2 linked regions of the Homo sapiens genome follow. The protein of the gene in region 1 interacts with the protein of each later gene in a pairwise test. Each region holds a gene or a part of one and is shown in the gene's direction. Other genes may lie near its edges.

Evidence for each region. The genes of interacting proteins can lie anywhere in the genome.
Region 2: the proteins of GPR101 (region 1) and TM4SF4 interact in binary tests that used the Homo sapiens proteins (3 or more experiments, as listed by UniProt).

Annotation. Positions count from the first base shown.
Region 1 is NC_000023.11:137,031,742-137,035,495, reverse strand, and holds the start of GPR101 (probable G-protein coupled receptor 101), read left to right. Parts: upstream 1-1,500; 5' UTR 1,501-1,694; intron 1,695-3,729; 5' UTR 3,730-3,754. UniProt on the Homo sapiens protein: Orphan receptor.
Region 2 is NC_000003.12:149,484,574-149,488,227, forward strand, and holds part of TM4SF4 (transmembrane 4 L6 family member 4), read left to right. Parts: intron 1-3,045; coding exon 3,046-3,182; intron 3,183-3,654. UniProt on the Homo sapiens protein: Regulates the adhesive and proliferative status of intestinal epithelial cells. Can mediate density-dependent cell proliferation.

The DNA of each region.
Region 1 (3,754 bases):
TCTCCATCCAGCCCATCAACCAACTCCAAACCCTGTGCTCATTCTAGACCCTCCCCAACACCTCCTTGCCCTTATTCCCTGTCAATTTGCCTCTCTGTAGGTCTCTGCTTGCCCCGCTCTGTTGGACCTGTCAAGACCCTCTTTGTCTCCTGCCACAGCCTCCCTTCAGCTTTCTCCATCCAACACCAGCCCTGATTTTAGAATATCGCCCTACCTAAAACCCACCAATGAACAAGAATGGCAAATTATTTACCCTTGTGAAGGCTGGGTAATAGGAACATGGAGGATTATTTTATTATTCTCATTACGTTTGTGTATGCTTGAAGTCTTTCATAATAAAACGACTCTCCGACGACCTCCAGGGATCTCAGGGTAAAGTCCGAAGTCTGCAGACTGGCATTCAAGACCCCTCAGGATTTGTCTCTACCCAGTTTAACCAGCTAACCTCCTGGCACTCACCATGCTGCAGCCTGTTTTCCCAGCCTTTGGAACTCAAGTCTCTCTTGCAGCCCTAGTTTTACCCCATGCATCTTCTTTTTACAGAACACATTTCCCCTTGTGCCCTGCCTAGAAAACACCTCCTAATCCCTTGGAAATCTAATGCAAATGATCCCTGGTCTGGGTCACCTTCCCTACCTTCTGGGGGCAGGGAAGAGGGGGCCTCCTCAGTCCTGATATACAACAAATACCCAGTATGTGTTTAGGAGAGACCAGAATGTCTTGGCTAATAGAACGTGTGCAATATTTACTTGAACTTAGGCAAGTAGGGTAATCTTTCTTGGCTTCTGCTTCTGTCTCTATAAAATGAAGATAATAGCGGTACTTATCTCACAAGGCTGGGGTAAAGATTCAGCGGTATTCTCTGTGTAAACAGTTTAACACAGTACCTGGCAGAGAGAGGGGGAGAAAGAGGGAGAGAGGGAGAGATGCTGACTGACTTACAGACAGACATACTTCAATCAAAGAATATAGTGGGTAATTATGTGGCTTGTCTTAAATGAAATGCTTCCAAATCCCACAGGGAAAGCACTGCCGCTTAGCTCTTCCTGGGAGCTAGAGAAATTCGTGGAAAATCGTTGACATTAAAGTCACGATTCCTTTCTCGGGCTCAGGGGCTATTCATACTTTGGAGGGTTTTCAGAAGTCGAGGGGAGTCCCGGGCCCTCCTATTTGGAAGAATCGGAAGGATAGTGCAGGGTCTGTGCCTGGGAGCTGGCCCGAAATCAGGGGGCTAGGAAGGCACGGGGTTTGCACGAAAATCAGCCCCGGTGACAATCCCCAGTCTGTGAGCTCTCGGTGGACTCGGGGCCCCAGGGGTGGGAACCCGGAGTGAGAAAATCTGAGTGGGGTCTGGTGCACGGCCCCCCACCTGCCAGCCCCGCTCCCTGGGCTGCGGCGGCCTCGTGCGTCACGGGCGCAGGCGGGGGCCGAGGGGAGGGCGGCACCGCAAGGTGAGGGCACCGCGCTGCCTTAAGACGCCGCGCGCCCCCGCTGCCTCTCAGAGCTTGCAGCGCGGCGCGCTGGCCGGACGTGCGGGCACAGACGCTGTGCCCCGCTCCTGCCGCGCCCGCAGCGCCCGCTGCCCCGTGCCAGCTCGCAGCCGCCCGAGCCCCGAGAGGCGGCCGGGACGAGCGCGAGGAGCCCCGAAGGACCTGCACGCGGCGCCCGCGACGCCACGTCTGCAGCAGCAACAGGTAAGCAGCCCGGCCCTACTCCGGGCTCCGTGGCCCCCAGCACCCGGCAGGGCCCCGAGCCTGGGAGCCCACGACGCCCCCTCTGAAGCGTCCCGACGGCTGCTGAGCTACCAGGCGCGGTGGCCCGCGGTGCGGCCCCTTCTCGCCTTTCCCTAGCCATCCTCCCGCCCTCGCGTTTTCTCTCTCACTTTTTCTCGTGCGTTCTTTTCCCCCTTCCTCTCCATTCTCTCGTTTTTTCCTCATCCTTTCCCTCTTCCTCTGCTTGTTCTCTTTTCTTATTATTTTTTGCTTTTTCTGTCTGCGTCTCTCCCAGTCTGTCTTGCTCTCTCATTCTCTCTCACTCTCACGCTCCCATTTCTTCTTTTTTCTTTCTTTCTCCCTCTCTGTTGCTCACATTCTCTCTGTCTCTCTGTATGTATCTCATTCTTTCGCTGTCTCTCATTTCCTTTTTGTCTCTCTGCCTCTCAGTCTCTCTCGCCCTGCCTTTCTGACTCTCTCCACCACCCTGCACCCCTGCCTCTTTTGCCTTTCTCCCCAGCTCCTTTCCCACTCCCCTCGGCTGTCACCGACACCAAGCAGATCCGGAGAAAGCAAAGAGGATGCCAAATTGGGAATGGGGATGGGGCTGTGGAGGGTGAGGGTAGGGGAGCTCAATAGGCATCCTCTCTGCATTTTCCAGTCTCCATTGCACTGCTGATAAACTAAGGGTTTTTTAACCAAAGCCCGCGGTGGCCGGGGCGGCAGGTGGTTTCCACGGCAAAATAAAGTCCACAGGGAGACAGAGATCCAAAGAGACAGAGATCCAGCCAGAGAAAAACCAAGGTGAGGGGCCATGGGAAAAAGATGTAGAGAAATAGAGATGCGCACACACTCAAAGATACAAAGCAAGTGTTTAGCCAGAGTCCTGGGGTGACAGGAAAGTGAAGGACAGAGAAACCAACGAGAGAGTGCACACACTAAAGAGATAGCTTGAGAGACAGGTGAGACAAGCAGTAGAGTGTTAGAGATCAATGGAGAGAGAGGCAGAGTAATGCAGAGAGAACTTAGGCAGGGAGAGACAGAAACCACACGGAGAGACACAGAGACAAGAGGGTCCGAGAAAGACAGAGCAAGCGCACACGTGCCAGTGAGAGACAGAAGGAGACACCCAGAGAACCCGAGGGAGACGCAGAAACAAGAGAGTTGGAGAGACACGGAGACGGGCAGAGACACAGCGAACGACATTGAACAGGTGCGCTAGGGACCCACAAAGATGAACTGCTGGGGAAATAGACTGAGAGAGAAATGGAGAGACAAGAGAGCACTAGGGAAAGACGGAGACACACATGAACTAGCGAGCGACACAGTGACAGGCAGAGACACAGAGAGACAGAATGGATCAGAAAGAGACTGAGGGAGAGACGGGCAAGACTGTGAGAAAGATAGGGAGCGAGAGCGCAAGCCCTGCAGAGAAAGTGCGCTAGCGAAAGAGACACACACAGAGAGACTGAGTGACAAACAGAGTGGAAGAGATAAATGAGAGTAACAGGAAAGAGACAGCGTGCACGTGCTATCGAGAGACGGAGAAACAGAGACAGACATAAGTGAGAGACAAGGATGAGAAAGAATCAGGAAACGGTGAGACACATACAGACACACAACCCGAGAGATAAAGAAAAAAAGTGCGCTAGCGAGAGACACTGGAGAAGAGACAGAAACTGACGGTCGTAAACAGACAGAAACAGAGAGCGCACGCGCATGCGCTAGCGCTAGCGACCAAAACTCCCCGGAGCCAGAGACAGTGTGAGAGACAAGCAGAGAAAGCGCACGCACGCACGCGCCAGCAGGAGAAACAGATGAGAGGAAATCAGAGCCCTGGAGAGAGACAGGCAGACAGATCTGGAGAGTCCGGAAAGGAGCCATAGAAGCTGCCCGCACTGGGGATGGAGCCGTGCGGAAACCCGGGGTAGGGGGTCCTGCAGCGTCCTTGCTGGGCGCGGAGGCTTCTCCCCTTGACGGGTGACTAACTCTGCCTGCGTGTTTCTTTTGTCACCAGCATAGGCACTGAGTGCGGTCTGTGC
Region 2 (3,654 bases), on another chromosome or scaffold:
CGGAGTCTCGTTCTGTTGCCCAGGCTGGAGTGCAGTAGCGTGATCTCAGCTCACTGCCACCTCCGCCTCCCGGGTTCAAGCAATTCTTCTGCCTTGGCCTCCCGAGTAACTGGGAAAATAGGCATGCACCACTGTGCCTGGCTAATTTTTATATATTTTTAATAGAGATGGGGTTTCACCATATTGGCCAGGCTGGTCTGGAACTCCTGACCTCGTGATCCACCAGCCTCGGCCCCGCAAAGTGCTGGGATTACAGTCGTGAGCCACCACGCTAGGCCTAGAATACCCTTTAAACTATAACAAGGCCTAGAATACCTTGTTAACTATAATATCCAGAACTAGGAACTATGGGTTCAACCTTTTTATAATAATTAATAAATATGTGTTAAGAAAAAATTTTTAACACAATTCTGTCATCTAACAATGATTGAGTTGTTTCTGACTGATGTCTTCTCTAGGCAGTACTTGGTTGTTCAAAATAAAGTGTTTGAGGAAATACATTATTACCTGATAGATGAAATAAGGACTCAACTCTAAGGTAATTCCTTCATTTCTGAGGAATAATGTGAGAGTGAATGATTTTCCTTATATTCCAGCATATGTAGTAGATTTCCTTCTCAGAAGTTTACACAAATTCATGTTTCATAAGTACTATATTTTTAGAAGTGCAGCAGGAATGAAACTTAGTTATGTAATCCAGCAATTCTCAAACTTATTCAACCTTACATCCTTTGGAAAAGAGATTGCCTGTTCTAACACGAGAAATTTACCAAAATGTTCACTTACTTCTGACCTAGGTTAAAGTCATGAATGTTCTGGATGCTGAGAGTGGATTTAGATACCCTAAACATAAACAATAAGGGGAAAAATCTAAACAATTAGTAATATGAAACCTTAGTCATTGAAAACATGCAACAAGTCATTATCCAGTGCCTTTGATAAGCTAGGAAGAAGGAAAACTGTAAAACTATGCTAAGTGTGGAAAAATGCCCTATCTTCAAATAACTTATTGTCTGTGACTTCAAGGAACTTGTGCTCTATTTGGAGAAGACAGCCATAAAAAGCTAAGCATTAGTTGGGCATGGTGGTGCATGCCTGTAGTCCTAGCTCCTTAGGAGACTGAGGTGGGAGGATCACTTGAGCCCAGGAAGTTGAGGCTGCAGTGAACCACGATTGCACCACTGCACTCAGCCTGGGTGACAGGGCAAGACCCTGTCTAAAAACAAAAACAAAAACAAAAACAAAAAAACCTATGCATTATTGTATTAGAGGCATTGTGCTGTGATAGAAATTTGTGCAATCTAGAGTACAGGGGTTGGAAGAGATGAAGAATGAAGGGTCAGTTCTACAAGGAGAGTCAGACAAAGCACATGAATAGAGCTTGGTATTAAAACGTTGCATCAATCAGATGAGTTGGCAAAAGAGTTAAATTTTCTATTAAAAAGACTTTTTTTAAAAGTTGCATCCAAAATACATTGATATATGATATGAAAATGAATCCCAGCTAAAGTAGAACTCCATTATTACATAGATTCCAATCACCCAGGCACGATCAGGTCCTCTTCACCTTCAAACCTTACCCCATCCCAGATATGTACTATGATAATATTGTTAATAACATGAAAGGGGAAAGGGAAAATAGCCGACATTTAGCTTAAGCTGCCACGTCTAATTTTCACAACAGATATTTAAGGTGGGCTCTATCATGCCCATTTTAAGATGATAAAACTAAGGCTCTGAGGACACATTCATTATGCAAAGTCATTACACAGAGAAGACTAGCAAAGCTGAGATATGAGCCTGGGTCTGGGTCTGCTGACTTTAAACCCTGTGCTTCGTCATCAAAGCAACAGAGGTGATCGTTTTCTGCCTCTTCTTCCAAAATTTTAAATGTTTTCATTCTACTTTCTAGTTACTGTCTAGAATGGATATTGCAAAAGTTCTTAACATCCTGGGCCTACATTTTTTCATCCGTAAGAGGGAGTTAACCTAGCTGGGTTCCAGGATTGCTTCTGCCTTTTGCAGTCAATAATTCTATTTTGATTTTATAATTGAAAACAAAATATGGTAGTCTAATCTGTTTTTCATTAATCTCCATCATAGAAAAATATTTAAAAGAATGGAATTTTTTGATTGTTTAACTTAAAGAAGAGAAAATGCTCCGAGGGTGGAAGGGGTGAGAGATGTCAAGGCAATCTTCAGATATTTTAAAGACTGATGCCAAATGGAAGACAGGTTAGACTTGATCTTTTTGGCCTCGAGGAACATAATGAGGGCCAATGAGGAGGGGTTCTAAACTTTTACTCTTTCTCATAAGTAGAACCTGCCTGTCACATGAGACATCACAGTGACTGGCCTTAGCAGGATAATTTGACCAGAAAACTTAAGATTACTGCCAGGCCAGGTGCGGTGACTCACATCTGTAATCCCAGCACTTTGGGAGGCCAAGGCAGGCGAATCAACTGAGGTCAATAGTTCAAGACCAGCCTAGCCAACATGGTGAAACCCTGTCTCTACTAAAAATACAAAAAAGTAGCCAGGCATGGTGGCGCACGCCTGTAACCCCAGCTACTCAGGAGGCTGAGGCAGGAGAATCCCCTGAACCTGGGAAGTGAAGGTTGCAGTGAGCTGAGATCACACCATTGCACTCCAGACTGAGCGACAAGGGTGAAACTCCGTCTCAAAAAAAAAGATTACGCCAATCCTAAGGTTCTTTGATTCTATAATAGATTGGCTTTATATATCAGCCCTGGGGAGGAGAGTTTATCTTTAACAAGGTTAAAAGGCCATGGCTCAAAGGTAACAGAACCAACACCTCTGTCATCAATGAAAAGGTGAAAAAGAAATGGAAATGGGAGTGAAGAAGGGAAAAGAAGACACCAAAATTCATTCTAGAAGACCCCACAGGCCCCATCTACTATAAAGACTAGCTCCTACTCCATAACTTCTTGTAGTCACCATGTTCAACAGCAGGTGGATTAGGTTTGTTGAGTGTATCCTCTGGACCACCTGGAGAATGTGACTGTCTCTCTTCCTCTCTTTCAGATGTTCACCTCCACGATATTTGCTGTGGTTGGATTCTTGGGAGCTGGATACTCGTTTATCATCTCAGCCATTTCAATCAACAAGGGTCCTAAATGCCTCATGGCCAATAGTACATGGGGCTACCCCTTCCACGACGGGTAAGGCCACACCCTGCAATGCCCACCTGTCACCACAAGGGGCATGGGCAGATAAATTGCCCAAGGGGAGACTGCACACAATGCCATGTCTTCATCCTTATGCAAGCCTCAGGCTCGGTGCTCCTTTGAGGCAGAGATGGAGTTGTGGAATACAGCAAAGTTGCATAGGCTCTCACCTCTAATTGCTCCTTTGACAGACCCCAGGAGAAATAACTAAAAGAGGACGGATGCCTCCTTTGGCCTGAGGGAAGGAAGAGATTTGTTGTGTCATCACTTGCACCCAAATATTTATTAGCAGCAACACAAGGCAACTAATAATATTAATAAACAGAGTAATAGTTTTCATTACAAATCTCATAATAGAAAACAAGAATAATTAACCACTAACTGGGCCCAAGGGCTTTCATTAATACCCCAAATTGCCTATAATTAAACAATCATTTAAGTGCAAATGTACAGAAAATGACATTGA